Linked DNA regions of Homo sapiens: all the other regions are reported to be linked to region 1. The links are microRNA targets in miRTarBase. Many come from high-throughput screens and were not tested one by one. Region 1 holds a microRNA gene; each other region holds the end of a gene's coding sequence. Distances are from middle to middle.
What was found. The annotated mature microRNA hsa-miR-4464 reads AAGGUUUGGAUAGAUGCAAUA and lies in region 1 at 6,334-6,354, shown strand. An mRNA with a match to its seed (bases 2 to 7 or 8) in the 3' UTR can be bound and repressed. Matches are read on the target gene's strand: a 7mer-m8 pairs with bases 2 to 8, a 7mer-A1 pairs with bases 2 to 7 and ends in A, and an 8mer does both.

Region 1 (10,477 bases):
TAAGGTGGTATCTCATTGTGGTTTTGATTTGCATTTCCCTAATGATTAGTGATATTGAGAATTTTGTGTGTGTGCTTGCTGGCCAGTTGTATATCTTCTTTGGAGAAATGTCCATTACATTCCTTTTCCTGTCTATCTATCTATCTATCTATCTATCTATCTATCTATCTATCTATCTATGAATGACAAGGTCTCACTCTGTTGCCCAGGCTGGAATGCAGTGGCACAATTATGGCTTACCACAGCCTCAAACTCTTGGCCTCGAGTGATTCTTCTGCCTCTTTCTCGCAAGTAGCTCGAACTACAGGTACACATCATACCTGTAGTTTTTAAACTGCTAATTTTTAAATCTTTTTGTAGAGACAGGGTCTTACTTGTTGCCAAGGCTGGTCTTGAATTCCTGGCTTCAAGCGATTCTCCCTCCTTGGCCTCTCAGTACTGGGATTACAGGCATGAGCCACTGTGTTCAGCTTGCCCATTTATTGATTGGGTTGTTGTGTTGTTACTGTTGAGTTGTAGGAGTTTTTCATATGTTCTGGATATGAACTCCTTATCAGATAGATAATTTGCAAATATTTTCTGTCATTTTTTAGATTTCCATTTCACTCTATTGATTGTGTCCTTTGATGGACAGTTTTAAATTTTGATGTAGTCTAATTTGATTATTTTTACTTTCGTTGCCTGTGTTTTCGGTGTCGTATCCAATAAATCATTGCCAAATTCAATGTCAAGGAGTTTTTTCCCTGTATTTTCTTCTAAGAGTTTGATAGTTTTAGCTCTTATGTTTAGGTCTTTGATCCATTTTCGAGTTAATTTTTGTATATGGTATTACGTAAAGGTCTGTCTTCATTCATTTGTATGTGGATATCTGATTTTTCCAGCATGGTTGAAAAGACTCTCCTTTCCCCATTAATGATCTTGACAACCTTATCAAAAATCATTTGACCATATATATGAGAGGTTTTTTTCTAGACTCTCTTGTATATATGTCTGTCTTTCTGCCAGTACAATGCTGTTTTGATTAACATAGTTTTGTAATAAGTTTTGAAATCAGTAAGTGTAAGACCTTCAAATTTGTCCCTTTTCAAGACTGAATTGGCTATTCAAGGTCCCTTGAGATTTCATATGAATTAGGATGGATTTTTCTATTTCTGCAAAAAACACCATTGGGATTTCCATAGGAAATGCATTAAGTCTGTAGATAATCTTGGATAGTATTGCTATTTTAACAATATTAAGTCTGAATTCATGAACATGAGATATCTTTCCATTTATTTTGTGTTTAATTTCTTTTAGTAATACTTTATAATTTTTAAGTATGCAAGTCTTTTGCTTCCTTGGTTAAGTTTATTCCCAAATATTTTATTCTTCTATTGCTATTATAAATGGAATTGTTTTCTTAAATTTCCTTTTTGAATTGTTCATTTATTCCTCTTTTTTCAAGTGGAGTCACCTGCTCATTTTTTATCTTTTTCTCTGGGCCATAAGCTTCAGGACAGTAGAAACGGCGTCTGGTTTTGCTCAGAGCTAGACCCCAAGTTCTTTGTATAGCACTTGTCAATGAGTATGTGCTCAATAAACACTTGTTAAAATTGTCTAATAGTGTTAGATTAGCTTAGTAGACCCACTGTCTATTCTTATATGTGAACAAATGGTATACTGATGCTGAACCACTTACCTTGACTATCTTTTCAGCCCTCCTCCTCCCTCTTAAAAAGTGATACCTCAAGGCGGGGAACATCACACACCCGGGCCTGCCGAGGGGTGGGGGCCAAAGGGAGGGAGAGCATTAGGACAGATACCTAATGCATCCCAGGGCTTAAAACCTAGATGACGGGTTGATAGGTGCAGCAAACCACCATGGCACATGTGTACCTGTGTAACAAACCTACGCATTCTGCACATGTATCCCAGAACTTAAAGTAAAATAAAAATTTTAAAAAGACACCTAATATTTATTGAGCATGTAGATGTACAAAGTGTCTATGCATGTGTTAATTTGTTTTTCACAATAACCCAGTGAGGCAGACATAGAGTTGAGAGTTTGAGTTCTGGAGTCAGACTGTCTGAGTTTGAGTTATTTAATCTCTCTGTGCCTCAGAGTCCTATAATAAGGGATTTCTAAAATGCATACCTTTTTGGCTTGTCTTGAAGTTTAATTAAGATATTGTATGTCAGATCCTTAGGACATAGTAAGTGCTTAGTGAATACTGATAATTATTATCTCAACTTTTCAAATGTGGAATCAAGGTTTAAAAAGGATAAGCTGCCTTCAATCACACTCAGGCAGTCTAGAACTTGTAAGTACTTAAGCCCTGCATTGAAGTGTACACCATTCGCTTCTATATCTGAGACCAGGTGAGGAAACTCACAAGGCCCTCAGAAATAAAATGTCTGGAGAGTCTGCAAGAAATGGAACCCCCAGGATGGCAGAACAGAGTGTGCAGGGTTGTCCTGATTTTGCCAGCCCCTTTCATTCTTCAGAAACTCCTTGAAACTCCTATCAGGGAAGTCAGGGGGTTCTGAGAGGCAATCTGACTCTACAAACTAGACGTTTTTGCTCAGTAGATCAAATTCTGTCTGTAGATCTGCCAGACAGCCAGCATGGCTCAGGTCTAGGGGAGGATGGTGAAGGAGGGTTGGCTTCTAGCATTATTCTGGGCCAGAAGAGGAGCCTGGGGTCTGACTCACTCTCCATCTTCTCATGGACTTCACTATCAGCACAGGCACACCCACCTTCATCTTGGTCCTATTCTCAGTACTAGGACTTTGTAGAAATGGAAGGGGTCCTGCTTTTGAGAAAAGTCCAGGACCTTGTCCCAGAGTCCCAAGTCTAGGGGAAAGCATGACCATTCCAGTAGTCACATTAGCTGCAGGTTCATGTAACATCAATGGCTAACATGTGTTGAACACTCATTATTCTTAGTGCTTTACTTGCAGTATCTTATTTTATCTCTGGATGACCAACTCATTCCAGTTTGCCTAGAACTTTCCCAGCTTTAGCACTGAAAGTCCCACATCTCAAGAAGCCCCTTAGTCTGGGGCAATTCAGGAGGTTTGGTCACCCCAAGCACCCTGGGAAGTAGGAAGCTTGGCAGAGAGGAGTGAAATGATTTTCTAATGACATACCCCTATCAAGTACCAGAGGCAGGATTTGAACTCACGAATTCTGGCTCCAGGGCCTCTTCTCATGACCAACATGCAAGGCTGCCCAAGCCAGTATAAGCTGCCTCTGCCAGCAAATGTTTGGGTTTGGTCCAGATACCAAGTAGATGGCAAATAGCACTGGTGGCTATGGGGAAAATAGTAAATTGTACAGTATGAAAGTTCCCAAAATTAAAAATGGAGACTTGTACTTTGTTGCTGACAAAATGCCAAAGATTGCTTTCTAGACTTGACTGGCTGTCAGATTTGGTGTCTCGTTTGATTCTAATATTGGTGGTGCCTTTAATTTTGGTAAGCATGAGATTGGGAAATATGGACCAGATTGGCATGGTGGATAGGTAGCTTCAAGGCGGAGTGGTGCAAGGTGGGATTCTGGCTCTCCTTGAAGGGCTTTCATATCCTGCACTTACTCTATCATCTCTATGGAACCACTTAGCGGCCACCATATCTAGTCTTGGTTTGCTTCTTTTCTTCTACTTCCTGTGCAGTTCCTCTCTGCTGCATTTATGTATCCTTTTCTACTCCTCTCTCCCACTCCCAGAAGCACTAACTTGGTAATGCTACTTCTACTCCACAGTCAGACCAGAGGTGAGCAGCCTGGCACATGCCAGCTCGAGAAGATTGTAAACCTGTCAGCTACCAGGACAGGCTCAGGGAAGGAAATGGGAGAAGCACAGAGCAGGAGGACAAGCGTGCTAGTCACACAGGCAAACACTAGCAACTTGGCGATTTGCTGGAGGTCAAAGAAATGATGGGGTTATTTGTACTTGGATATTTTAATTTTCTTATTTAATTAGATTGTTCTTCTGTTGCAAGAAGTAGAGACCTTTCCAAGGCACTATGAGAAAGAGGTCAGGGGAGTAATGGTAAGGAAACACATGGATTCAATCTGAAACTAGAATTTTAAAGCTGTCAGGTTCGTCTCTCAAGGGCTATGGGGTTCTGTTTTTCTCTGAGTATCTCTGCTCCATTCCTTGAACTTCTGACCAGCTTTCTCTGTTTACTTGGGAAGTCATGATGTGAATCTCAGCCCCATCCACTGAGCATCTGGGTAAGTCTCCTGGAGTAATTTGTCCATGCATCCATTGGATTACTAGTCTCCACTTGCCAAGTGGCAGAACGTCAGCTCTGCCTGGACTCAGTGGGGGATTGGGGAGATGGCTCTGTTAGCTTCTGTGGCTCTGCCATGGCTGTTCTGGCTGCCACTCCAGCCCTCGTTCATGTTGCTTGATAGCACGGCCCATGCTGCTCCACAGAGGTGCTGGCCAACCCTGACCTCTAATACACCCCAGGACCTCTGTTCGCTCACTTGCGGGCATCTCCCTCCTAAGGAAATGGCTGCTTCTGCTAGCCTCCTCTGGTCTAGGTGATGTGGGGGACGATGATTCCCATGGGAAGCATGGGAAGCACAATAGAGGCACACTCTATTGTGTCTATCCAAACCTTACTAATTTGGAGTTTTGTGGGGTGGTGTGCTGTGTGTATGTGTGTGTGAGTTCTTTTGGTTGGATGACACCACTCCTCCCTGGGAGTGGAGATTGTGAAGGAAAGTCTGGATTTCAGATGGCGCTTCAGACTGTATTCAAAGCCACTCTTCTCATCCCACACCCAAGCCCTTCTTCTAGTCCACCCTACTGGATTTCTTCATTGTTTTGGGGGTTTTCCTTCCAGGGGTTAGTTGCTCCCTGCAATTTAGCCCGTGTCACTTTCCTTCTCTCCTTCTCTGGCCTGTCAAACAGACATGCTGGTGTGTGCAAACCCAGGAAAACTGAGGAATGTGGCTGGATTCTTATTGCATGGCCCTTGCATGTTCTGTGAATGTACAGAGGATCTCTAGGGCTTCTTCCACCTCACAGACAAGCCAATTCGAGCATTGGCTTGGGGTCCAGCCAAGATATCCCTTTATGTTCATAATTTCTGTTTTCTAAAACTTTTAAAAACAAATGTGTCCCTTTTTAAAGATATGACTCTTCATGACCATTCTATATCTGTCCTTTTAGCTTCAACTCCTATTTTCTTATTTATTAGATCTTAGTTCAAATGCATGTGAGGAAAAATCTGATTGGCTCCACTTATGATTTAACACAGGCCGGGCATGGATTGGCTGCCTTGGCCCAACCCTGGTCCAATCAATTTACCAGCTTGAGGTGGGTGGCGAGAGGGGAGGGGTGTCCCAAGGAACAAATCATGGTCACCCAGGCCTTCACGTTCAGCATCTGCTGTGCATAGGATACTCTTTCTTTAGAGTCACTATTGATGGGTAAACACAATGACTGATACCTCAAATACATTCATACTTCAAGAATGAACTGTTTTCTGAAATATCAACATGGGGGCCTTCCCCCCATTAAAATTTCCAACCGTAGTGTGCTTTCTTATTTCATTTTAGGTATGAAAAATGATATAGAGTAGGAGTGTTTGGGAGTCTTCTATGTTTTTGTTGCTTAGATGATTCCCATGTAGATTTCTACACTATTCGATTTCACACAGATATGGAGTGATTCACAGCTTAGAAGAATATTGCTGTGTCCTTTTCTGCTGCCTTTCATAATAAGACTTCAATTGCTTTTAAAACACTAACTAAATCTCATTAACATTATCTCCCACATGTTAATAGGAAAAACAGGTCTGTAGAACAGTGACATTTCATGATTAAAAATACATTTATTTAATGGTTGAGTTGCCTCGATTTGAATATTGCCCACTGCTTCCATAATAACAGCAGAAGTTTTTCACAGATGCTTTTTAATGGGTAACCCCTGCTATATCTCCACTAGCAGTATAAAACCTTGAGTAATGTGCATTGATTTGATATGTGCTAATTGCTTATCAGAAATTACTCAGTTGTAGCCTATCACTGCTGAAATTACTTCCAAGGAGAAAACTGGGCACTTTTGAAAGGTGCATTAATGCCACTAGGTCACTAGTGTCACATTTAGTATTCTAAAACAGTAACTGTAATGGCCTGACAGAGCCCAGTGCTCATCCAAAGACATTCGATGTTCACTCAAAGAAGAAGGCACAAAGAGAATCTGGCCCCAAATGTGGAATCGAATGCAAATAAAAATTGCTTCAATCTATTATTTTATAAGTTTATTAAAAATCAGGAACAGCAAATAAAAATTGCTTCAATCTATTATAAGTTTATTAAAAATCAGGAACCTTAGTAAGGTTTGGATAGATGCAATAAAGTATGTCCACAGCTGAAAGGACATACTTTATTGCATGTATCCAAACCTTACTAATTCAGAGTTTTGTGCTGCGTGTATGTGTGTGTAGTAGGAGTATGTGTGTGTGTGTTTCAATGCTCCTGCTTCTGATCTCCAATAAATAAGGTTATGTTTTGTATCCAACTCTGTGGTATACTGGTGCCATATTTTGTCTTGAACAATTCTCAAAATGTTTAGATAATTAGTTCTGTTTAGGATTGAAGTAATCCACTGGGAACCCAGGGTGGGCGCAGTTTGGTGATTGAGGGGGCAGAGGTAGTGGAGTAGTCATGCATGCTTCTCAAAGCCCTAGTGTGGTAGGGATGCATGGAATGGCCAGAGAGAAACCAGGACTGCTGCCTACATGGATGCCTGCCTGTGAGGTGGGAGGTAAGGAAACCTCAGTGGCCCCTACCCTGGCTTGAGTGGAGGCCCAGGGCTGGGGTGGATAGCAGTGGACAAGGAGCACCACAAAGGCAAGGAGCAGGTTTAGGGGAAATGAAACATTGACTCCTTGTGATGAGGACAGTGGGCTGGAATGTTTCACATTTCCCTCCAAGCCACCATTCTTATAGTCACTATTTGCCTAGTGTGACTGCCAAATCTGGGGTCCCTGACACTCTCTCAGCTTCATTTTCCTCTTTGCTGGTCTCATACTCAAGCTGGTACTCGCCATGTGAAGGGCAAGGTGGTCACCAGCAGCTCCAGGCTCCTTACTGCAGGTCCTTATGCTCCACATCTCTGGGGAGGGGCAACAACACTTCCTCTCCCAGGGTCCATATGCACACCTCTGGCGGGCCTTTGTGTGGCCCTGCTGGGTCACATGCTTATGCCATGGAACTGCCATTAAGGAAAGAGAGACAGAAACTATGACTGGCACATTTCCATCTTAAGGGACAGAGGGGTGTTGGGCAGACAAAAGCAGCCAATTTCCACTAGACTTTCCTTCAGACACCTATTATAAACTGGGATGCGTCTGATTCTAAGATGAACAGTATTTTTGTGAAAAGCCTTCTTAAAGAGGAGCAGCTCTTCATTTCCTTGGATAATCCAGGCACAGCCCCATATTCAATGTGCTCATGTCCAACCCAAGCGGATGCTACCCATCCCCTTCTGCATATTCTTTCCCACAATGTCATGCCACTTCTGTGGACAGTGCTCCTAAAATGAGCTGGTGTCTATGTGGCAGAGGATTTTGAGTACCAGACATGGATCTTTGCTCTCAATTTCTTCATCAATTAGGAAGCATTCATAGTTTTTGAGCACGGGGGTGATGAAGAAGGGGATATTGCATTTGATGTGCAGCAGGCAGTTGGAAATATGGGTCTGAAACTCAGAAGGGAGGTTCGAGCTGGAGAATAGCTGTGAATAGAGTGACAGCTGGAGTAACAGAAATAATGATATTATATCCAAAAGACTATAGAGAAATAAGGGAAGAGTGAAGGGCACACAGTCACTCATTCTAGAAACCTAGGAGTCATCATTGGCTCCCTCCTCCCCTCACTGCCGCATATTCCATCTTTCAGCCATACCTGATAATTCTACCCTCAAATTCCATTTATAGAACCTGTCCACTGCTATCCATCTCCATCCAGGTTGTAGACTTTCCTGTCCTTACTACTGCAAGTGCACTGGCTCCTAAACAGTCTCTGCTTCCACTCTTTCCTATGTCCAACCCATACTCACCTAGCAGTAAAAAGATTTTTCTAACATGTGAATGGTGTCATGTCACCCCTCTGTTCAGAGCCCCTACAGGGTCTCACACTGAGGTTATGATAAAGGACAGCCATCATATCCTGGTCTATGAGGCTTTGTGTAACCTGGCCCTTACCTCTACCTCCAACCTTCAGTCACTCTCCATTCATCACATCTAAATCACATGCAACGATTTGTTTCTCAAACACATCAAGCACTCTACCAGTTCTGCTTTAAACTTCCTCATCAGCCCTAAGTCCGCCTATTCTTCTTACCTTCCATCTCCCCAGCGCTGGTTTCTACTGCCCATTCCCTTAATCCTCTCAGTAACACACAGTGTTTTTAATGCCTGAGGAATCATCCTGCAAGCACAGACCCTTCTTTGGCCACCTTACCTTCCCAACCCAGCACTGCGGCAAGGAGCTGAGCAGAGCAAGGTGGTTCCTGAGAAACCTTCCAAGAGGAGAGGGAAGCCCATGGCCATGAGGACCACAAAAATCACCATTCTTTCCCTTTTAAAATGTGTTCTAGTTTTAAAAAATATAATACTAAAATTGGGTTTATTTTTAAAAATAAGGTATAAAGAAGATTCTTCACTTGACAAAAGGATTCATCTTGAGGTTTCTTAAAATATTGATTTTTTCTAATATATTCAAAGCTTGTAATTTTATTTTCCACAATTCAATTCACACAAGTTTTCACAGGTACATTAACTGCAGAAAATAAAGCATGCTTGTATTATTCCTGTGTCATAGATGGTAAAATTGAGGCTCAAAAACTTGCTGAGAATGACAAGGACTATCAATAACAGAGTCAAGGTTCAAAACTAGAAAACTGTTGGCAATGAATCTTTGCTCAACTCAAGGATTAATTCTATTTTCCCAATAATTTTCTCTTTAAAATATAGTGTAAACCCCAGCTATTCTTTTCCAATACCTGAAATGGACTTGAGTATAAACATGTTAATGATTTTTTGTATAACACCACGTAGGGGATTCCCAGATACTGGTTATGTCATTCCTTAGAGTCCTCCTCAGCTAACTGTAATGGTTGTGCTGGGCTGCCTGCACCAAGGCTATTTTTGATAATACATTTGTGTTTTATCCAATGAGCAACCAGGCAGAGAGGCAACACTGGGACAGTTAACTTACATTTTAGCATAGTTGTGAAAAGTGAATAACAAGTTCTTTTTTTAAATAAAAAAGGAAATGAAATTAAAAACAAGACTTCAATTTAATCTAAGAGACTGGAAATGGCAAGCTTGCCCCTTGTGAATTTGGTTCCGGTTCACCGAGTCTCAACTATCAAAGCAGCAGGGCAAATGAAGGAGGGAGTATCGCTCAACCTCTAAACTTGCATTTGTGGGTTTCATCTGGGCTCCATGTTATTGTAAAGGGTTTTTATGTTACCAGACTTCTGCTTAAATTAACAAAGCTTTTTGTAGATGTGGACCTATTTGATGCTACTCAAACAGCGTATGATTACCACAGAGGTAATTTATAGGGGGAAATCCCAAATACTTAAGCATTTAGGTAAGTATATACAAGTAAAGTCAAGATCTAGATGCAAGCCCTGTGTAAACACAACTGCATCATATTTTGATTTGGGAGGGAAAATTAAAGCTAGTGCTTGCTCAAAGACACTTTCACATTAAGACAGTCTAACTAGCTAGGCTGTTCTTTTCACCTTGTCTATCCTCCCGAGTGCACCAGGACAAGGGTGATAAATCCTACTCAGGCAACTGTTGTAAAGGAAATTGAAGCCCATGTAAATCCAGGGTTTATATTAACTATGGAGAGCGTAAGCATCAACAGTCAGTACCCACTTAGAAGCCTTTTAGCTACGTGTACTGCATTATATTCAAAAACTAGAAGGGAAAAACACCAAATCACATTCTTTCAGCATGTAGAAATCATTTTTGGTACTAAAAATGTGTTTAGTGCTACCATGGAAAAATAAAATGATTTTTTTGACCAAAACATTCAATTTTGCCTTTAAACAAACTTAAATAATTCCAAGTAGAGGCATATTTTTTCTTCAAAGTATTTACACTTAATGGACAGAACAGGAACAATAATTATTGTTATTTAAACTAGACAGTGAATCAGCACTTCATATATATTATTTGCTTAATCTTCACAACTCCACATGGTAGGTTTTATTGTCTCCCTTTTATAGATGAACAGATTAGGGCTCAGATAGGTTAAATATGCCCAATATCATACAGCTAATAAGTGGCCAGTTCTATATCCAAGTCCTGGGTTCTGTGATTTCACACTATTTCTGGAAATAGAGTTCCAGTCTTCTTGTGAGAAAAATTACGTTGCTTCATGCCCCAGGTCGGATCTTTATCTGTTAGTCTTCTTTTATTTTATTTTTTTATTTTTTTAAAACAGAGTCTTGCTTTG
Region 2 (10,477 bases), not on the chromosome of region 1:
AGGGTACAGTGGCCGGGCACGGTGGCTCACACCTGTAATCCCAGCACTTTGGGAGGCCAAGGTGGATGGATCACTTGAGGTCAGGAGTTTGAGACCAGCCGGGCCAACATGGTGGAACCCCGTCTCTACTGAAAATACAAAAATTAGCCAGGTGTGGTGGCATGCACCTGTAATCCCAGCTACTCGGGAGGCTGAGGCACGAGAATTGCTTGAACCCAGGAGGCAGAGGTTGCAGCGAGCTGAGATCATACCACTGTACTCCAGCCTGGGCGACACAGCAAGACTCCATCTCAAAAAAAAAAAAAAAAAAAGAATTAATGTACAGTAATAGGAGACTCTTGGCTTTTAAATCCTAGATGATAATGTCCTTGTAAGTTTAATCTTTCAGTATGGGCTTATGATAGTTATCACAGCCCTAAATAGCTTATTTTAGATCAAATGCTTATGTGCTAGCAAGATACAGTCAAGACGCATGTCGAGATCATAGTTACCTTGTGTGTTTTCTGTTTTAAATATTAAAATGGGATGTTTAGACTCTTAGATGCAGATAAAAGATGTTCTCAGTGATAAAATCAATAGAGGCTAATATGTCCCCTGGAAAAATAGTAGCACAAATTAGGCAGTCCAATATATTCTGAGGAATGCACATCAGGCAGCATGTAAAGGACTTCTAAGATGTAGATAGGAAAGAATGAAGATGAGGAAAGAAGAGAAAATCTGATCTAGAAAACAGAGTATGAGTCCCCCTTCCCGCCCCCTCTTGAAGATTATAATAAGCCTTATGCTAAGTAGGAAAATGAATTCATCCAATAACATTTGCATTCCTTTCAGTACTTCCAGCGAGCTGTTAAAGATGAATTGTGTCGTCAGAATAACTTATATGTTCAGCCGTATGCCTGTTATGAACTTGGCTGTCTTCTATTAGACAAACCAGAGGTAAGATCTTATATATATAATATAATATATATTTTTAATGTTGTTCAACAAAAATGTGGAAGTGGGCAAGCACAAAGCACCCTTCATTTAAAACAAACTGAACACAGTGTTCTTCATTTTGTTTTCCTTGGTTTTACTTAGAATGAATCCAAGAAGTTAGTAATACTACCTTATTATCTTTAAGGAGGTAATTTCTTCCCTAGCATTCAAATTACAGTCATACATCTCTTAATGACATGCTGAGAAATGCGTTGTTAGGCAATTCCTTCCTTGTGCAAACATCATAGAGTACTTACACAGACCTAGGTGGTATCACCTACTACACAACCAGGCTGTATCTATAGCCTATTGCTTCTGTGCTATAATTGTGTACAGCATGTTACTGTATTGAATACTGTAGGCAACCGTAACACAATGGTAAGTATTTGTGTATCTAAATATAGAAAAAGTATAGTAAAAATACAGTTTTTAAAAGTTAAAATATGGCCAGGCTCAGTGGCTCATGCCTGTAATCCCAGCAGTTTGGGAGGCTGAGGTGGGAGTATCACTTGAGCCCAGAAGTTCAAAACCAACCTGGGCAACAAAGTGAAACCTCATCTCTGCAAAAAAAAAAAAAAAAAAAAAAAAAAAAAAAAAAAAATCAAAAAACATAGTCAGGCGTGGCAGCATGTGCCTGTAGTCCCAGTTAACCTGGGGGGCTGAGGTGAGAGGATCTCTGGAGCTTGAGGTTGCAGTGAGCCATGATTGTGCCACTGCACTCCAGCCTGAGCAACAGAGCAAGACCCTGTCTCAAAAAAAAAAAAAAAAAGTTTATAGCTATGTATAACTTACTGATTCAGATAAAACCTTTTGATAATCATTAATTTTAAGGTTGTTTAGTAAGATTTTAACCTAAGATATTATATCTTAGAGGTTGCCTTTTATAGACTATGAAAAATTATTTATCAAGTGATTATATATCAAGTAATGTCCTCATGTAAATGAGTAAACATCTTTATATTAAAAAATATTGGGGCTGGGCGCAGTGGCTCATACCTGTAATCCCAGCACTTTGGGAGGCCAAGGTGGGTGGATCGCTTGAGGTTTGAGACCAACCTGGCCAACAGAGCTAAATCCCGTCTCTACTAAAAATACAAAAATTAGCTGGGCATAGTGGCAGGTGCCTGTAATCCCAGCTACTCAGGAGGCTAAGGCAGGAGAATTGCTTGAACACGGGAGGCAGAGGTTGCAGTGAGCCAAGATCATGCCACTGCACACCACACTCCAGCCTGGACAACAGAGTGAAACTCCATCTCAAAAAAAAAAAAAAAAGAAGAATATTGGAGTCATTATACTTGAATGAACAGTTGACTCATTGCTATGTCTACAGTGAATTGTTTTAATTAACATAGCCTCCTATTATACCATTTTCTGCCTGCGTATATATAAACACAGATTTTATGGGATAATGTGTTTTTCTTATAGACTGTAGGAAGAGGCAGAGCTCTACTTCTTCAAGCAAAGGTAAATATCCTGAATCTACCTTTCTCCAGTGGCCCTTCTTATCCCATACACTGTATACCTGAGTCTGAATTCAAGAAAGTTTGTGCAATGATGTTCTGGTTGGTAATATTTCTGGAAAGGAAAAATGACAACCAATTGAATCAGTGAGCTCTTGAGTTTTAAGGGACATTACAAGATCATAAGGAACTTCGATGAAATTGTTCATCCTGCTTTAGAAACACTCTTAGTCTTTGGGTGGGAAGATAACTTTTGATTTTATAACTATGTCCCTGAATTAAGAATTTCTAATAGCAACTTATATTGAGCACAACATAAGACTACTTTTTCAAGAATAACTCGAGGAAAATTGTCCAAAGAGAACCTTATTGACATTCAGTTGACGTTTTTAAAAATGAATACAAAGTTTGAGGTTTGAGTAATATGAAAATCAAGTGGATGGGAAACCTTTACTGGGAGTGTAGAGATTTTACTTTGGGAAATGCAAAATTGAGTGTGCTTTATACCACAGTACCCTGTGCAAGCTTAGCTAACAGAGTGCATAAATATCTTTCTTTGATCTTACAGGAGGATTTCTCTGGCTACGACTTTGAAAACAGATTGCATGTCCGCATCCATGCTGCTCTGGCCTCTCTGAGGGAATTGGTTCCTCAGTGACAGACCCGGAACACCCGCTCCGTCCCTCCCCACCCAGGGTCCGCACTTTAAAATAAAAGCAGAGGACAAAGCTCTTGTGAAGATGGGCTTTTCTTCTGAAAACCACCTGTGCCAGGGACACATTTTCCCAGTTAAGCTGACATATTAAAGATCTCCTCTTTTAAACATGTAGCTGAAAAGTAATAATGATGTTGAGGAGGATGATGATGGTAATAATAACTAACCACCTGGGGAGAGGGTTAAGTGACCTTGCTCAAACGTTTTAGTTTTGTGATTTATTATTTTTAAAATAAAATCAAACGGAACATCCAACCCAAGATCCTGTAGGAACACCTACCTTAAGCACATATCTGAATGGGTAACATGATGAGGTACCTGTAAAATTATTAACAATATCATGACATAGCATTTATATTTGTGTTTTGAAAAAATAAAAGTGCTTTCTAGTGTTTTACTTTATCCTCAAAATACTCCAGTGAATAACATAGCACAGATATTCTTAACCCCACTTTGCAGACAGTGAAACTCAGGCACAAAAAGGCAAATTGACTTATCCCAATTAATTATTCCTGTTATCAGCAGAGCAATGAATAGAAAGCAGATCTCCTGACCACCAACTGACTTTTATTGTAAAAATAATTCATGTTAATAGGCCAGAATTCCATGTTTTACTTATTAAAAGAACAAAATCTTCAGCTGAAGTTATGTCACCAGAAATAGTCATCTCCAGATTGTCTACAGAATGTTTCAAAGCGATGGACACTCTTTTTCCTTTGAAAGCCAACCAAGTAAGAGCAAATATTAATAGAAGATAATTTTACAACTAAAAGTGTGACTCTTTTGCTAATCTATTAGCCTAGTCTATAGATTAGACAAACAGTATCTACATTTTAGGAGTTTACCTTTCTTTGTGAAAATTGTCAAATTACCAACTTTTGGAAATCTTTTGACACATTACTTGAAAAGGTTATTCGTGAATGAACATAGATTTTGGCCTCAAAATATTTGCTGGTGGAACATTTGCTGGGCTACACAGTGCCAGGATTTAATCATTTTCCCCTTAGCTCAGGTTATTTAGATATTATACAAGGAATTCAAAGTTATTTTTTTATTCTTCATTGCTAATTTTTGTCATTTAATTTACCTCCATGCCCGGTACTGCAAACCTGTGGTTTTGAAGAATCTAAATACCTCAGTCACTTTTAAGAATCTCTGCCATAATTTGGCTCAATGTTTAAGGTTAGATTTTTAAAGAAATTTTTATTGAGCTAAAGGATATCATTTTAGGGTATCGTTTATTTACAAATTCTTTTGGCTGAAACATGATCTCATATTAATATTTTAATATTTCTTTTCAAAATAAAACAGAAAAGCAAGTAGAATGTTGGCAAATTTTATCTGATTTGACCTTGTTTTGAGGGAATAGTCATAATTTCTTTGAAAGAAGTTATTTCTCACTGATTTTGGCTAAACAGTATTCATATTTCTTCATCTCTGTTACTGACCACTTTTCAGTAGACTGTTTCCAAAATGTGTATTCACATTGACTTTCTCCCTGATGTGAATTCCGTGTGGGTTTTAGATAATAGTAAGAGAGAAGAGATTGCTCTCCTATATTCAGTGAATGAGAAGGGAACTTTTTTCTGAAGAGCAAAATTGGTGCCCAAAAATATTGGACATCTGTTTTTTGTTTTTTTTTTTTTTTTTTTTTTTTTTTGAGACGGAGTCTCGCTCTGTCACCCAGGCTGGAGTGCAGTGGCGTGATCTTGGCTCACTGCAACCTCTGCCTCCTGGGTTCACACCATTCTCCTGCCTCAGCCTCCCAAGTAGCTGGGACTACAGGCACCCGCAACCACACCCGGCTAATTTTTTTTGTATTTTTAGTAGAGATGGGGTTTCACCATGTTAGCCAGGATTGTCTCCATCTCCTGACCTCGTGATCCACCCGCCTTGGCCTCCCAAAGAGCTGGGATTACTGGTGTGAGCCACCGTGCCCGGCCTGGACATCTGGTTTTAACTAGATGGAAGGGAAGAACATTATGAATCTTTAAAATACGGCTGTTGCCATTTTTCTCTCTTCTTAACATGCAGCATAGGTGACAAGCTTTTCTGTCATCATCATGGAGCATTCTGAATCATGACATTTTTGTTTGAGAGTTCATTCTTGAATTTTCAGTTCAAAATATTGTTTGAACTATTATTCCACATTCAAAGATTATATAAGGTCCTGTGCTTTTGAATCTTTTTCAAAACATTTATTTCTGCCTGCTTAAAAAAAATACTTTTATTTCCCCACAGAGAGTTCAGGACTTCAGATTAGTTTGTGTTCAGCTCACTTAACTGGATAGACAATTTTGCGTTTTGCAACACCATCCTGTAGGTTTTCTTTACTAGTCAAAGTGTAGGTCTTTTTAAAATTTTTAATCTTTATTTTTATTTTTATTTTGAAACAGAGTCTCACTCTGTTGCCCAGGCTGGAGTGCAGTGGTGTGATCTGTGCTCACTGCAACCTCTGTCACCCGGGTTTAAGCGATTCTTCTGCCTGAGCCTCCCAAGTAGCTGGGATTACAAGTTCCTGCCACCGTGCCTGGCTAATTTTTGCAGTTTTAGTAGAGGCAGGGTTCCACCACCTTGGCCAGGCTGGTCTTGAACTCCTGACCTCATGATCCACCCACCTTGTCCTCTCAAAATGCTTACAGGCATGAACCACTGTGACCGGCCAGGTCTTTTTTTTTTTAAAGAGTCTATCCTAGGCTTGGTACAGATGGCGCCTGTGGTAAATCTGTGTTAACATGGTGGTAGACCATGGAGAATGGGTAGATGGAGCTTCTAGACTCCAAAACAACAAAACCACAGTGTGAGTACACTGTCCCATTAGGTTGACTGAAGTCTGAGTACATTTTCTGGCCTGCGTGCCGTGACTTATCCAACCTGTGAACTGATTGTGATCTGCTTGGTAACTTGGTTTGGTGTAAACTGCTCTTAACCCTTTGCTGATGAAGAAAATAATCATATAAGTGGAACTATTTGCATCTATGTGTGCTTCTTTTTTTATGTTGTCATCACTCATTCCTTCCCCTGTCCTATTTTGGAGGCTCTCAATGGATCTTCTAACTTATAAATGTCAAATATATTTTTGTATTAGATTGTGCCTATGATGAGAGAAATCTTTAATGTATATTTTATGTATGCTGAACACATTTTTATAATTTGACACACTTGGAGGCATGGTCTAGTAATAATAATGTAATATGTACCTTGCTGGTTAATATAACTAAGATTTTGCCTTTATTGGGTTAGGTATCTTTTTTTTATTTTAGCACCTGATAGCTGTCTTCTACTGAGTAAAGAATTATAACTTTTAGATGTCACAGAAAATTAGAGTATTTATTGTCACATATTGTGTAAGTCAATTATTTACTGAATTTGCACTTTTCTGTCTCTGCCAACTAAAGTTAAAGGACAAGTCATATCTGATTTTTAAAATGAGCACATGCACAGGCATGCACACACACACACACACACACGCAGACACACACCTTTGCTGTGTAAACTTTTCCAGTGGATTTCTTCCTTAAGCAAATCATGGTGGCAAGTATTCAAATACGGTTTTCACTATGAAGATACACATTCACAAAATCATGATGTACTGTTTTGGTTTCTGCAGATGGTATATTTTGTAGAAAGAAAATTGTTAAATCGAGATCATCCAAGAAGATACATAGTCGAGGCAGATACTTTAGAAGCTAGAAGAGGAAATGCAGAAAGAGAGAAGGATAAGGGGAGCAAGAGAAAGTTGGTCCATAACAGATAATGCTCCTTTTTCAGTAAAGTATGCAGAAATCACCAAGAGCACAATTTAACTGGCTTTCTTGTGAAAGCTAGCAAGGGGGCTGATCTCTGTCACCTAGTTGACTTGGGTATGAAATAGAAGCAACACACTTGAAACCCAGGTGACCTCTATGTAATGCCTAATTCCTCCTCCCAGAGGCCAGTGGTTGTCAATTTCCGTGTTTTACATAGAGATTCTGGTTTGGTAGGTTCTAGGTAGGGCTTGGGAAGGCATTTTTAACAAGCTCCTGGGATGATTTCTTATGCAGGTGATGTGGATTAGAGAAACATTGCCCTATTCATCTTTTGTTAAGGATTTGGTAAATCTGGGAGAAGAGTCAAACACAAGCAGAATTATATAGAATTATATAGCAAGGATAAGTCATAGAGCATACATCATGGGGCCACTGAGAAAATGCTTCTAACCCACTGGCTTCCTAAAGTAGGAGATTTCTGAGATGAGTTCTAAAGGAGAAGCAGGATGCAGTCAGGTGAAAACACTTGCTGGAGCAGCATCCAAGGCCTTGGACCTAATGAGCAAAAGCACAGAGGTGATAAGCGACATGTGTGTTCAAGACTCTGGAGGGTCAAGTGGGAATCACATGGTGAGACATGAAATACGAGAGGTATGCAGAGGCCACACCCACAACCATGGACTTCCATAGGGTAAGGATTTGGGGTGTGGGAGAGGGGCAGTGGAAGGTACATTTGCGTTTTAAATCATTGGTGACCAAAAAATAACATACTGGTGATTGAAAGGGAGATGAACACAAGCCAAGATTGTGAAACCACATCAAATCATTAAGAGTTCAAGAAATCAAAGCAGCGATGGGCAGTGGTTTGAAAATTCTTGGTTAGATGTTTACATTGTAACAATTTGCATTTCAGAATGACTCAGCCAAACAGTCACTGAAGAAATGGAGAGTAAAATCTTGTTTTTTGAGTTACAGGTATTTCTGCATAATACCTTACACCTAATAGATGTTTGAGATGACCCACCAAGGTTACGTTAAAAAAACCATAAATGTCTCCAATTCCAAAAGACACCATAGATGAGGTACTTAGGATTTTCAGTAGCTCAGTTCATTATGTCTCTGACACCTAAATGTGTTATAAACCAAGCTATCAGAAATCATGACAGCCTCATCTCACTTTTATTTACATTACCAAAGTGGTGCTGGAGGCAAGTGATGAAGGATGAAAAATATCTGCAGACCCACCAACATACTCAGTCTAAAAGCATTTCTCCCTTTTTTTTGTTTTGTTTTGTGAGACGGAGTCTCGCTAATTCTCCCTTTTTAAGTATGTAAACTTCCCGAGAAGAGGGAGCTTTCCTGGCACTCAGTAAAATAATTATTAAGTGGATTAATGAATGGCACCAGATAATGCTGACTGAGGCCTTAACATTGCTTTTATTGCAAAGTGCTCTGGAAGCCCTAATTTTTTCTGAATTAAAAAATAGGGTTTTGTTTTATTTTGGTTTGGTTTTTGTTTTGTTTTGTTTTGTTTTTGGTCAGATATCTGCCCTGGCGATGCTCTTTGGTTTAAAGTAGTTGCTTTTTAAACATTTGAAGATGGATCAAAATTAAGGCTGCTTGTACTCTGATAATCATGATTATGGTGTTATTTAGAGCCCAGCCCAAATACCTGAGCCTAAATGAGTGAAAGAGCAGAGAGTGGGCGTTTTTTTGTTTTTTTTGTTTTGTTTTTTGTTTTTTTGAGACGGAGTCTCGCTCAGTAGCCCAGGCTGGAGTGCAGTGGTGTGATCTGGGCTCACTGCAACCTCCGCCTCCCAGGTTCAAGCAATTCTCTGCCTCAACCTCCAGAGTAGCTGGGATTACAGGCACCCACCACCACGACCGGCTAATATTTTGTATTTTTAGTAGAGACAGGGTTTCACCATCTTGGCCAGGCTGGTCTTGAACTCCTGACCTCGTGATCCACCCGCCTCGGCCTCCGAAAGTGCTGGGATTACAGGCGTGAGCCACCGTGCCCGGCAGAGTGGGCGTTTTTAAATGAAGCAGTATTCCTTTAGTTTGGTAAAATTGAGCTGAAGTTACACACAGTAACACCTTGACTTGTTGCTGACGGTGTGCTTTGTGGGGATAGTTGGTGTCTGATCTCAACTGTGGAGAAACAGGAAGTTTCTGGATTCATGCTGAACTCCCATTCCACAGGCGAGTTTCACAAAAGAAAAAGTGCTCTGTTGCATACAATTATTCACTGTGTGTCTACAACGTGGCAGAAATTATTATTCCTAAAGGTGACCGAAGAGAGCTATAGTTTATGGGGCCAGGAGCAATGTGTGGAATGGCGAGGCAGTGACAAGACAGCACTGCCATAAATCTCTTACTTTCTTTCCAAACGAGCTCTAATTTTAAGCTCAACGACCAAAGACGGAGAGGCAGTCGCTTTGAGCTACTCCTGGCTATTTGTTGGGAAATCACCTAAATCCGTTCAGATTTAGCCAGAAAAGGGGAAATAAGTCTCCCTCGCCGGCCAAATCATGGCCTTTGTCGCTTTCGGCTCCCCATTGGCTGCGGCCGCTGTGGCCCCGCCTCCTTGAGTGGTGCGGAGCTTTGTGATGCGGAGCTTCGTGATGCACGCCCCGATGCCTGCGGGGCTATAAAAACGCTCGCAAGCGCCAAGTCTCCTCAGGAGCCGCCGGCAAGGGGGCAACGAGGAAGCTCTTAAGAGCGCGGCCGGAAAGCAGGTGGGGAGAATCTGGAGAAAAGGCGCACCCTGCGGCCTCGGAGACCATTATGTCTCAGGGAGTCTCTCGCAGTGGGAGAGGTCGTCGGGGCAGGCGGAGGGTCCTCAGAGTCGGGGGTGGGGGGCCTGTGGGGCGGCCCCGGCCCACACCGGGGAGTGCGGCGACCAGACGGCCAGCTGCCGAATCTGAGGCCTCGGTGGGTCCGTCGCCCGCCTCTCTTGGACAAGTCCAGGCGATGTGAGCACGCCCAGCCTCCTACATTTCACTCCCGTCTCTCCCAAACAGACCTAGCGCAAAACGAGCACTGACACAGCGGGGGCCCACATCCCGGAGGTTCTTTAGGGAGAGGTCGGGGAGTGCGGTTACCTATGGCTCCGAAGTCCCCGCTGGCATCCTGAAAGGCATCGTATTTCTCGCTTAAGGCGTTACCCTTGTGGTAGTGGGCGCATGGACGTTTACAGTTGGGCGGGGCAGGATTTAAATTCCGCCAGTGGTGGACCAGTATTGGTGATAGGAGAGATCTGGGAAGAATTATTAAGCTGTCGCTTTTAAATAACCCTAATAGTGTTTGTGACAATTTTACCCGTTGACTTTTCTCAGCTTGCTTAGGACAGTTCTTTGTGGGGAACTGAACTGTAGGACGTTTAGCGTCCCTGGCCCCACACGTTCCCAAAGTCGGGGTGAGAACTAGTGGGACGGGGGATCATGGAGTGCATGGCCGCTGTCCCCACCTTTGGTAGCACCAACTGCTAACTGCCTCCTGAAAGGTTGTTGGCGCCATCATGGTTTCTGGGAGCCACTTTCTTTTTTATTCTTTTTTTTTTTTTTTGAGACGGACTC
Region 3 (10,477 bases), 51 Mb from region 1:
TCTCCAAGAGGTGTTAGGAAGAGGTCCTGCCTCTCCCAGCCCTCCAGCCCCACTCAGAGAAACCCTCCAGCTCTCTTCTGTGTTCAGAAACCCTCCCAGGGAAAGAGAAAGAGCCCCGAGCTGGGAGGGAAAAGGCGGAAATTCCAAGGCCATCTCTGCTCTGCGTGACACTGGGCAGGTCACCTCCCCAAGCCTCCCTCTCACTGTCTGTCATGTACAGATTCCACCCTTGCCCAGGCTCTGATCCTTTCCCAGATAATCTCCATTAAAGTCCCTTATCAACTCCCAAGCACCAAGGAATTATTAACAGGGAAGTGGCCTCTGTGGTGAGAGCTGGCCCAACACCATGAGGTGTGATTTTGCTTTTTCTTAATGGTACATCTGTAGTGTGCCCTCCTTTCTGGGAGCCCACGGTAATCAAAACCCCAATACAGACAGAGCTTCATCACTTAACTGGGGCCCATAAAGTGAATGAGTTTGAAATGGTGCCTTTTGTGTTGAGGTCTGTGCATGTAAGGAGCTATGTCTTGGGGCAGAGCGTGCTCTCCCCCCTATTCTGTAGCATTTCTTCCCAGGCCCCACCCCACCCACCCCCTGTCATTACTGCATGCAAGTGTGTGAGGGGCTCAGAGACCATCCTGGGTGGGAGATGGCTCAGACTCCATGCTCCCTACCACCGGCAGCGTTCACAATCCTGGCCCAGGCTGCATTTCAACAGTGCAGCAGAAACATCAGAGCCCAGATCTCATCAGCAGCCACGTGCCCACGGGCCCCCAGCTCTTGCCCTGCCAGTCCTTGTACTAGAGAGACAAAAGCAGTGAGTTTCAGCCATGGCCATGCCTCAGAATCACCTGGACCCACCCCAGTGATCCTGACTGAATGGTTCTGGGCTGTGGTCTGGGCACCAGGATGTCTAGAGATTCTCCAGAGATTTCCGTTGTGTAGCAGAGCTGGGAACCACAAGTCCAGAGTGACAGGAACACATGACCATCATAGGCTCGGTGTACTTGTCTTCTTACTTCCCGTTCTAGAATTCAATTCAGACAGATCAGAATGTCTTAAAAATAAGGACCATATTTGTTTAATTAAACAGCAAGGCCTGCCAGAGGTCTTGCACACAGAATTAGAACTGAAAGACCAAGGGCTCACAGCCGTGAATTATTTCCAATCTCTTCCTCCGCACTAGCTGGCCATTCAATGTATCACCAAGAATTACCCTTTCTTCCACAGCAATATCAAGCCAACCAAGCTAACACTCGTCACCCAGTACCAGGTTCCTGTGGCCGAACCTGGAGGGCTGCAGCTGCCTGCTCACCTGTTCCCTGAGCAGCCTCACCCCTCAGGCTCTCTGTCCACTGAAATTTTTTTAAACATTGTATTTATTACTTCATCCAAGAATCTCAGAAATTCTCTCTTGCTCTTACTAAATTAGCCAAACTTTAAGCAAAATAACTGCATATCACTCTTACCAGTTCTCACATTTTAATGTGCTAATGAATCGACAGGTTTTGTCAAACTGTAGATTCTGATCCAGTAAGTCCAGGGTGGACCATGTCTTAGACTCTGCCTTTCTTAACAAGCTCCCTGGAAATGCCAGCACTGCTGGTCCATGGACCACATTTTGTGAAGCAAGAAGCCACCTTGCTTTTTCCAGGTATCTCATCTGCTCCAGCAAAGAGAAATGTTAGGCCCAGAGAACTGACATGACTTGCCCAAAGTCACACCGTGGGTTGGGGACTGTCCTGGCTAGAACGCAAGGGCCCTGGTTCTCAATCCAGAGAACCCTCTCCATGCCCAGCCATGGGAGATGACAGGATAGGGGCCACATGGTCAGGAGGAGCCATCCTGGAATATAATTAATATCTGGAGGAAAAAGCAAGGAGAGAATCTGAGGATTAGGTAGGAGCATCAATGAAAACCATGGGGTTGTCCAGGTGTGGTAGCTCACACCTGTAATCCCAGCACTTTGGGAGGCTGAGGTGAAGGATCACTTAAGCTCAGGAATTTGAGACCAGCCTGGACAACATGGTGAAACCCCATCTCTAGTAAAAATACAAAAATTAGCCAGACGTGGTGGTGGGTGCCTGTAATTCCAGATACTTGGGAGGCTGAGGCAGGAGAATCACTTGAACCCCGGAGGCAGAGGTTGCAGTGAGCCGAGATTGTGCCACTGCACTCCAGCCTGGGTAACAGAGCAAGACTCCGTCCAGAAAGAAAAGAAAGAAAAAGAAAGAAGGAAGGAAGGAAGGAAGAGGGGAAGGGAGGGGAGGCTGGAGGGAGGGAGGGAAAGAAAAGAAAGAAAAAGAAAGAAAGAAAGAAAGAAAGAAAGAAAGAAAGAAAGAAAGAAAGAAAGAAAGAAAGAAAGAAGGAAGGAAAGAAAGAAAAGAAAGAGAAAGGAAGGAAGGAAGGAGGAAAGAAAGAAAGAAAGAGAAGAAAGAAGAAAGAAAGGAAAGAAGGAAAGAAAGGAAAGAGAAAGAAAGAAAGAAAGAAAAAGGAAGGAAGGAAAAGAAAGGAAGGAAGGGAGGGAGGGAGGGAAGAAAGGAAGGAAAGAAGGGGAGAGAAAGAGAGAAAGAATGAAAGAGAAGAAAGAGAAAGAAAAAGAAAGAAAGAAGAGAAAGGGAAGAAAGGGAAGAAAGGGAAGGAAGGGAAGGAAGGACAGAAGAAAGGAAGGAAGGAAAAGACAAGACTCCAGCCTCGGTGACAGAGCGAGACTCCATCAAAAAAAAGAAAGAAAGAAAAGGAAAGAAAACGGTGGGGTAGGAAAACAGGCGTCAGTCTCAGCCTAGGGAGATGGAGCTTCTGCAAAGGGCAAAGGGGGCCTCTTCCTTCAGAGCTTGGGGTATAAATGCAGCTCCTGGGAGGCAAGACACAGATGCAGTGCCCAAGACCCAGGGGGAGTGGCTGGTGGCCTCCCCTCCCCCCGATTCAATCCTGGGAAAAGTCAGTGTCTGCATGCACAGCCTAACCAAAAGCATCCTGTCTCCCTTTCAGGTTTGGGAAGCAATTGAATTTCCAGGAAATATCCATCCATGAATTATGCCAGCAAGAATGAAGCACAGATGAAGGCAGCGCCCCTCACTTGCTCTGGCTTCAGAAGTGAACTATGGGCTGCTGGGAGCAACTAGTGACTTTGATTCCCATGGAGGGGACTGTGTTTCTTTAAGGATGCTGACCTGGAGGCCACCGAGAGGCTGGGGCTGGGGCTGACCACAACATCCTTCCTGTGGTTGCTGGAGCTGCTGGCAGGGCCAGGCAAGGCCAGAGTGCTAGGGGCAGGGTGAAGGCTTCAGCTCACTGTTGTAGTGACGTTTTGTGTAGATCTTTATAAGCTTTTGAGAATGTGAAATAGCACCATCAAAATATAATGTCAGAGGATGCTCACACCAGTGGAATGTGGGGGGAATATTTTTATTTTTAACGATTTGCCAGCTCTCTCCCTTGGCCCGTGCTCTGGTTTGGAAGCCCAGAAATGGCCATGACAGGTCCAGGCAGGATGTCCCAGCCACAGGCAAGGCAGTGGAATGCAGGGCATCCTGAAGGCCAATCCTGATCTCCCAGACCACATCTTTCACCATCAGCCTCTTGGCCAGGATGACCTGGAGGCAGTGCCTGAACAGCTGTGTCTCCAGGGAGCCATCTGCCCTGCAGGGTCTAAGGACATCATAGCACCCAGAGAACAGTGGGCAGCTCCCAGGGGCTCTGCTGAGAGCTTGAGAGAGGGCAGTGTGGGTACCTTGGGCCTCACAACCTTCACCCAGCCACTTGGGAGGATTTGGGCTGACACTCCCCACTTCCACAGGGAAAAACATAGCTGCCTGGGGGTCTTGTCTCCATGGGCCCTCTCCATGACAGATCCAAGGGAAGGTGGGCAGCCCTCAAGGAGGTTCTTGAAGAACTGCCCCCTGGGCCAGGGGGTTCCAACCCAGCTGCAGCCAGGGAGGGGCAGCGGAGGGTGAGCAGGAGTGGCACCTGGAAATGAAGCTAACTGGATAAAAGTGCTGGTCCACTGCTCCTGGTGTCTCTGTCCTATAAATACAGGACCTGATGACCCTGGAGGGGAGCAGAGTGGTAATATAGTATAATTGGCTTGATTTTCTTTTTCGTTTTTTAGGACTGGGTAACAGGATCATGCAGGAGAAGATTAAACCATTACATTTCTAAGCTAGGCAGGCCCATCGAGCTCCTCTAATCCACACCCCTATTTTATATAATTAGAAGGCCAGAGTGAAGGGGAGATTCAGCTTGCTGTTCTATGCCACTGACAAATGTCCCCTCTTCAGGGGGCTTCCCCTGACCACTCCATCTCGAGTCACCCCCTAGTTATCCCCTATCCCATTACCATTTTTTCTGCATCACTATCTGACATGTTATCCTTCCGAACTTGCCTATTTTTGAAATACCTGCAACCCCCCATAATACTAAGAGCTCCAATGCAACAGGGACCTGTTTGTCTTGCTCATTGCTGTGTCCCAAGCACAGAGTCGCTGTTCAGTAAACGGTCCTTCAGTTCATGAGTAGACGAGCCAGAACCCAGATGTGTTTCTCAGGCTGGTGTCACTCTGACTTCCCCCAGGCTCTGACTGAATCCCATCGGGACAGGGGCCAGCATCTCTGGTCCACTCCTGGCCCTCACAGTTCAATGGAACATAGTAAGCCCTCTGTAAAGTCTGTAGAACCAGAGGAAGACCAAATTCTGATTCTAGAAGCCTCCCCAAGAGTCCATGGAACACACATGTAACTGCACACACACACACACATACACACACACACTCTCAAGAGCCCTGAAGATGGCATGGCATTTGCCCCAGTCCCCTATGTAGCAGCAGCAGTATTCTTGGCATGCCTTAGTGCCCTCAGCCCTCTAGAGCTGGGTAGAGTCTACTAACTTTTATTTTCTTTTATTTTTACTTTCTTTTATTTATTTTTTGAGATGGGGGGGGTCTCTGTCAGCCAGGCTGGGGTGCAGTGGTGCGACCATACCTCACTAGTCAGCCTCCAACTCCTGGGCTCAAGCCATACTCAGCCTCCAACTCCTGGGCTCAAGCGATCCTCTCACCTCAGCCTCCAAAGTAGCTGGAACTACAGGCATGCACCACCACACCTAGCTCGTTTTAAATTTTTTGTAGAGACAGGGTCTCACTGTGTGGCTCAGGATGGTCTCAAATTCCTGGCCTTAAGCGATGCTCCCGCCTTGGCCTCCCAAAGTGCTGGGATTGCAGGCATGAGCCACATACCCTGCCAGAGTCTTTCAACATTAGATCTCCCACTGAGACATCATCTCCTGGATCCAAAGGCCTTACTGACAGAGATGTGTGGCATGGCCCCATGCGGGGTGTGAACCAGCCTCCTGGGGCAATCACTAAGACAGGAAAGGAAATGAAGACAGAAAAACACACAACATGGGATCTGGGGCCACTGGTGTCCAGAGCATATGCAAAGTGTGTGCAGCAACTGGCCAAGGGGCCTTTTGCTCCGAACATCCCCTAATGGAAGCCCAGCCTTTGATATGGACACATGCTTGACAGCAGTGCACCTTCCCAGAGTTCACTGGCCTCTGCAAATGGGAGAAATTGATGCAATGTTTTGAAAAGACTTTCCAGCAATCCACCTGGGATCAGTGGAGCCACGGATGACAAGAAGTATCTGAGTTCACTCTAGGCCAAAATGTGGGATTTTCAAAAACATTTTCTGGAAAGCAGCCTAGCCAGTGACTCCAGCCCAGTCCCTGCTAGAATTCAACTGGCTCTACCAATCCCTTGACAAGAAGTAGGGTGGACGGAGGTTGGAGGAGGGAAGTTAAAATGTAGCTTGCCCAGATCTTGCTAAAAAGGAGTTTTAGAAAGCAGATAGAGAAATTGTGGTATACTGAATACATCATTTTAATTCTTCACCACCAGTATAGAATTACACATCCAAAGCTTTGTCATGGCCCACTTTGACTAATGTGGTGTTGGCAAACCTGATCCAGGCAGAGGCTTGAATTGTGCTCTCATGGTTGAGCTTGCCTCTTGCTCCAGTGATCTCTCTTGGGATGAACATGCCATGGGTAGCTGCTGCCCCTTCAGCCTGGAACATCCAGAGAGCAGACCTGAGCCCAGTCTACAGCCTGGAGCAGAGCCTCCCAGGCAAGCCCAGCCCAGATCAGCTGAACTATGGCTCACCCAAAGACCTATTGGCATGAGAATATATGCTGCTTGTCATAAACCACTGAGGTTTAGAGTGGTTTGTTATATAGCATTAATTGTAGCAATAGCAGACTGGCACAGAAATTGGAACCCAGAGACAGTATATGACTGGATCTAGGATTTCTCAGTGCAGAGTTCATTGTCTCTCCATGCAGCCTGTGGAAAGGCACTGAGAGCATCCTGTATATGGAAAAGCAGGACCACCACCTACAGCCATGATGAAGCAACAAGGACCTGATTTACCCTCCTGCTTTAAATGACTAAAAATGAGACAAAATCCTCTATACAAACCAATGGTTTTCAGCCATTGGATAACAAGCAATATAGGGTATGATTGATCCGCAAGAGAAGGGAAACAAGTGAGGGGAGCCCTATGATTGCTCCAACTTACTGCCTGCAGTGAGTTTTCAGGCTGCAGCCCAGGAAGGGGGAACCAGGTAGAGCCCAGTGGTTTCCCTGAGTTGAGGAAATGGAGCTGGGAATCCAGGGAGGACAAAGTGGCTTAAATTTGCAAGGCAGAGTCCCAGGGATGAGAGAGAGAGAAGGAGAGAGAGAGGAGAAAAAAGAGAGAGAAAGAGAGAGAGCATGCTCTGGAGATCTTCAGAGGGTTACCCTTGAGTCTTCAGCTAACTACCGATCAACATCTGCATGTGAAGAAATTACCCAAGGCAGGGGAAAGAACCACCAGGAGGAAGCAGGTGGAATAATTTCCTGAGATAACACTGTGTTGGGAAGAGTTCATGTTTCCAACAGCCAGAGTGGAGAAACCTCCCAAAACAGTCATTGTATAGAGACACATAAGGTACTGCCTCAGAAGTGGGGCCAAATTAGTCCTAGATGATAGATTGCTCTGGTCCCACCTAACAAAGCTTAAAAAGCCAGCCCCAAAGGAGTCAAATTGTTTCCAGTAAGTTTCCAAGTAACTTCAATGAGTCCCAAAACAAAGCTTCAAAATATCTAAAGGAATATGAAAAACAAACCAAAAAGAAACCAGCATCCAACAATATAGAATCCACAATGTCTGGTGTCCATTAAAAAATAATCAGGCATGCAAAGAAGCAGGAAAATATGGGCCATGAGAGGAGAAAAAACCATCAATAGAAATAGAGGCCGGGTGTGGTGGCTCACTCCTATAATCCCAGCACTTTGGGAGGCCGAGGCAGGAGGATCACCTGAGGTCAGGAGTTCAAGAACAGCCTGTTCAACATGGGGAAACCCCGTCTCTACTAAAAATACAAAAAATAGCCGGGCATGGTGTTGCGTACCTGTAATCCCAGCTACTCAGAGGCTGAGGCAGGAGAATTGCTTGAGCCCAGGAGGCAGAGGTTACAGTGAGCCGAAATTGTGCCATTGCACTCCAGCTTGGGCAACAAGAGTGAAACTCTGTCTCAAAAAAAAAAAAAAGAAAAAACAAATAGAAACAGCCCCAGGCATGGCACAGTTGATAGAGTAAATAGACAGAAACATTTTTTAAAATGCAATGGGTGTGTGTTTCAAATCTAGGCAGAAAAAATGCTCCTTGTAATTCCTTAAACATAAGCATGTCTCATTCATCTGGTCATTGTTTTGACAAGGATGTGCCATCCATTGTGCTAAGTTCTGAGGAGTCAGAGGTGACAGAGACAGAGAAAGTGCCAGCATTCTTGGAACCTTCTAACGAAGGAGAGGGACAAGCCAGGCATGGTGGCTCACGCCTGTAATCCCAACACTTTGGGAGACTGAGGCTGGCGGATCACGAGGTCAGGAGTTTGAGACCAACCTGGCCAACATGGCGAAACCCCATCGCTACTAAAAATACAAAAATTAGCTGGGTGTGGTGGTGCGCACCTGTAATCCCAGCTACTCTGGAGGCTGAGGCAGGACAATCACTTGAACCCTGGAGGCAGAGTTTGCAGTGAGCTGAGATCGTGCCACTGCACTCCAACCTGGGCAACAAGAGCGAGACTCCTTCTCTGAAAAAAAAAAAAAGAGAGGGACAATAAACAAGTAAGCAAGACAATCTGATTAAGAAGGAGTTGGGGTTAGCTGGGCATGGTAGCAAGCGCCTGTAGTCTCAGCTACTCGGGAGGCTGAGGTGGGAGGATCCTTGAACCCAGGAGGTTAAGGCTGCAGTGAGCTGTGATCACACCACTGCACTCCAGCCTGGATGACAGAGCAAGACCCTGTCTCAGAAAAAGAAGAAGGAGTTGGGGGTGGGGTAGGATGGGCTTGGACTCACTATCAAGGTGGGTGGGAGTGTGAGAACCCGGCAAGGTGCAAAGAGAGAAGCAGGGAAGGGAAGCTTAGGACAATGATGGCAGGTTGGGTATTGGGTGATGGGAAGAGGCAAAGGACGTGGAGCTTGGCAAAAAGGGGACTTGTGGGGATTTGGGCCATGTGAGCATGTGGGGGAGACAGTGTTCCTTCCATAACACGTGTCCAGGGACTGCCAGGGCTCCGAGGCAGAGCAGGTGTAGAGAGGTTGGCTGTGAATGTTGGATGTTGAAAACATATGTGTCAAATGTGGGAGGAAAAAGCAGTGTTTCCTTGAATACAAGCTCCTCCTCACCTTGCGAAAAGTGGCCTCTGAGTGTAGCCCTGAATGCATCTCCCAAGGAATAGGAGGAAGCAGCAACCTTTTCAGAGTTAACTGCTTTATTTGGGTTTTCCATGGCCTCGTGCCAGCCAGCAGGGCTGAGCCAGTTTCACCCACACTGAGAGGGAACTCAGCAAAGAGCAAGCAGCATGCCAGCTGGTACTCTTCCCTCTCCATTCACTCAGCTCCTGATCTCAGGAGGGCAGCCCCTCCCCAGGCCAGCACCCCTCCCCTTCTGGCCCCAGGTGTGGGATGTTGTTGTTTTCTTTTCTCCGAAACATCTCCTGGGTTTGTCTTTTCCATCACTGTCTTTAGACTGAGGCAAGCAGTCCCCATGCCTTCAGCCCCATGTTTTGGGGGTAACCTGTGCTTTGACATGCTTTGCTAAAAACTTTCTAAGTCTCCCTCTGGTGCTGGGACCAGCCATGACCAACAACGTCATCCATGCAGGCCACCCCTAACATAGTCCAGGCCTCATGTGGGTCTCAGTTCCCTTTTCTTCTTTCAGGAAGTTCTCCAGTGCATGCATAGGGTTGACCAGATGTCCCAAGGTGCTCTAGGACTTATGCCTATGAAGCTGTTTTAGGGCTTCCTAGTCAGTCCCTGGTTCCAGGAAAGCAGCCTGATGAGGAGATCATTCCCGCTGGCTGGTGTGGCATTTCTTTTATGGCACTACCTGGGATTGGGCCACCAGACCTGCGCTAACATGCTGATTTGATGGACTCTTAACATCATAGGACAAAGAATCGTCATGTGAACCAATTAGACAATAAACAAATGCCTAAGTGCCTCTTCTCTGTCATTATTCTAAATCTACACAAATCAATCATTATACCTCACATGGGCTCATGAATTTGGTACTAAGTTTTTTTCATCAAATTGTTTATACACACAGGGGTCCATCCACAAAAAAATATTTGCCAGGACCCTCACACACCAAGAGCAGCTGGCCCTGTCTCTCCTCTGGTTTCTGGGCTCAGTATCTCTCCCAGGCCCTGGGGACGCTCTGCTCCTCCCTGTCTCAGCGGCACCCCTCATCTACATCCTGGCTCACAGCAGCCCAGGCTTCTTGCTGCTGCTGCAGCTCCAATGACTCTCAAAGCTATGGGTTTTTCTTATAGTCTGAAGAGGTGAGGGGATGTAGGGAGATTCATTAACAGGGGATGGCCAGCAGATCTTTTAACAATATCTTTCATGGCCGGGCACAGTGGCTCACGCCTGTAATCCCAGCACTTTGGGAGGCTGAGGAGGGTGGATCATGAGGTCAGGAGTTCAAGACCAGCCTGGACAAGATGGTGAAACCCCATCTCTACTTAAAATACAAAAATTAGCCAGGCATGGTGGCGGCTGCCTATAATCCCAGCTACTTGGGAGGCTAAGGCAGAGAACTGCTTGAACCCGGGAGGCAGAGGTTGCAGTGAGCTGAGATCGCGCCACTGCACTCCAGCCTGGGCGACAGAGTGAGACTCCATCTCAAAATAAATAAATCAATAAAAACAATTTCTTTTTTCAATTTGAGTGGCCATCAAGAGATGAGGGTATGGTCTTCCCACTCTTGTCATGCTTCCAAGGGCACCGGCCTAATATGCCAGGACAAGCTGACCACCCCTTCATTAAGGTTCACAGAAGAGCAATTTCCCTGCAGGAATGACAAAACCACAGTGACCCAGACAAAGGAGTGGAGAACTAGAGCCTGTGACAGACAGTGTCAGTACTC

Region 2: miRTarBase lists TTC39C as a target of hsa-miR-4464. Seed matches in the 3' UTR shown: 7mer-m8 at 4,255-4,261.
Region 3: miRTarBase lists KIF6 as a target of hsa-miR-4464. Seed matches in the 3' UTR shown: 7mer-m8 at 5,955-5,961.

Annotation. Positions count from the first base shown.
Region 1 is chr6:90,306,420-90,316,896 of GRCh38, forward strand. MIR4464 (microRNA 4464) reads left to right here and starts at 6,323; the gene lies at 6,323-6,414. All of the region lies in intron 1 of LOC105377891 (a long non-coding RNA gene), which reads left to right.
Region 2 is chr18:24,129,482-24,139,958 of GRCh38, forward strand. TTC39C (tetratricopeptide repeat domain 39C) reads left to right here. Exons shown (of 14, transcript NM_001135993.2): 12 at 832-936; 13 at 2,401-2,439; 14 at 3,004-6,119. The coding sequence ends at 3,093. It overlaps CABYR (calcium binding tyrosine phosphorylation regulated), which reads left to right and starts at 9,581. Exons shown (of 6, transcript NM_153769.3): 1 at 9,581-9,637. RefSeq lists an enhancer at 9,166-9,225.
Region 3 is chr6:39,329,063-39,339,539 of GRCh38, reverse strand. It overlaps KIF6 (kinesin family member 6), which reads left to right. Exons shown (of 23, transcript NM_145027.6): 23 at 2,992-9,550. The coding sequence ends at 3,008. LOC105375047 (a long non-coding RNA gene) reads right to left here. Exons shown (of 3, transcript XR_926774.3): 2 at 862-1,027. Among named protein-coding and RNA genes, the nearest start is that of KCNK16, 12 kb to the right of the region's middle. RefSeq lists enhancers at 1-21, 3,298-3,377, 9,298-9,377.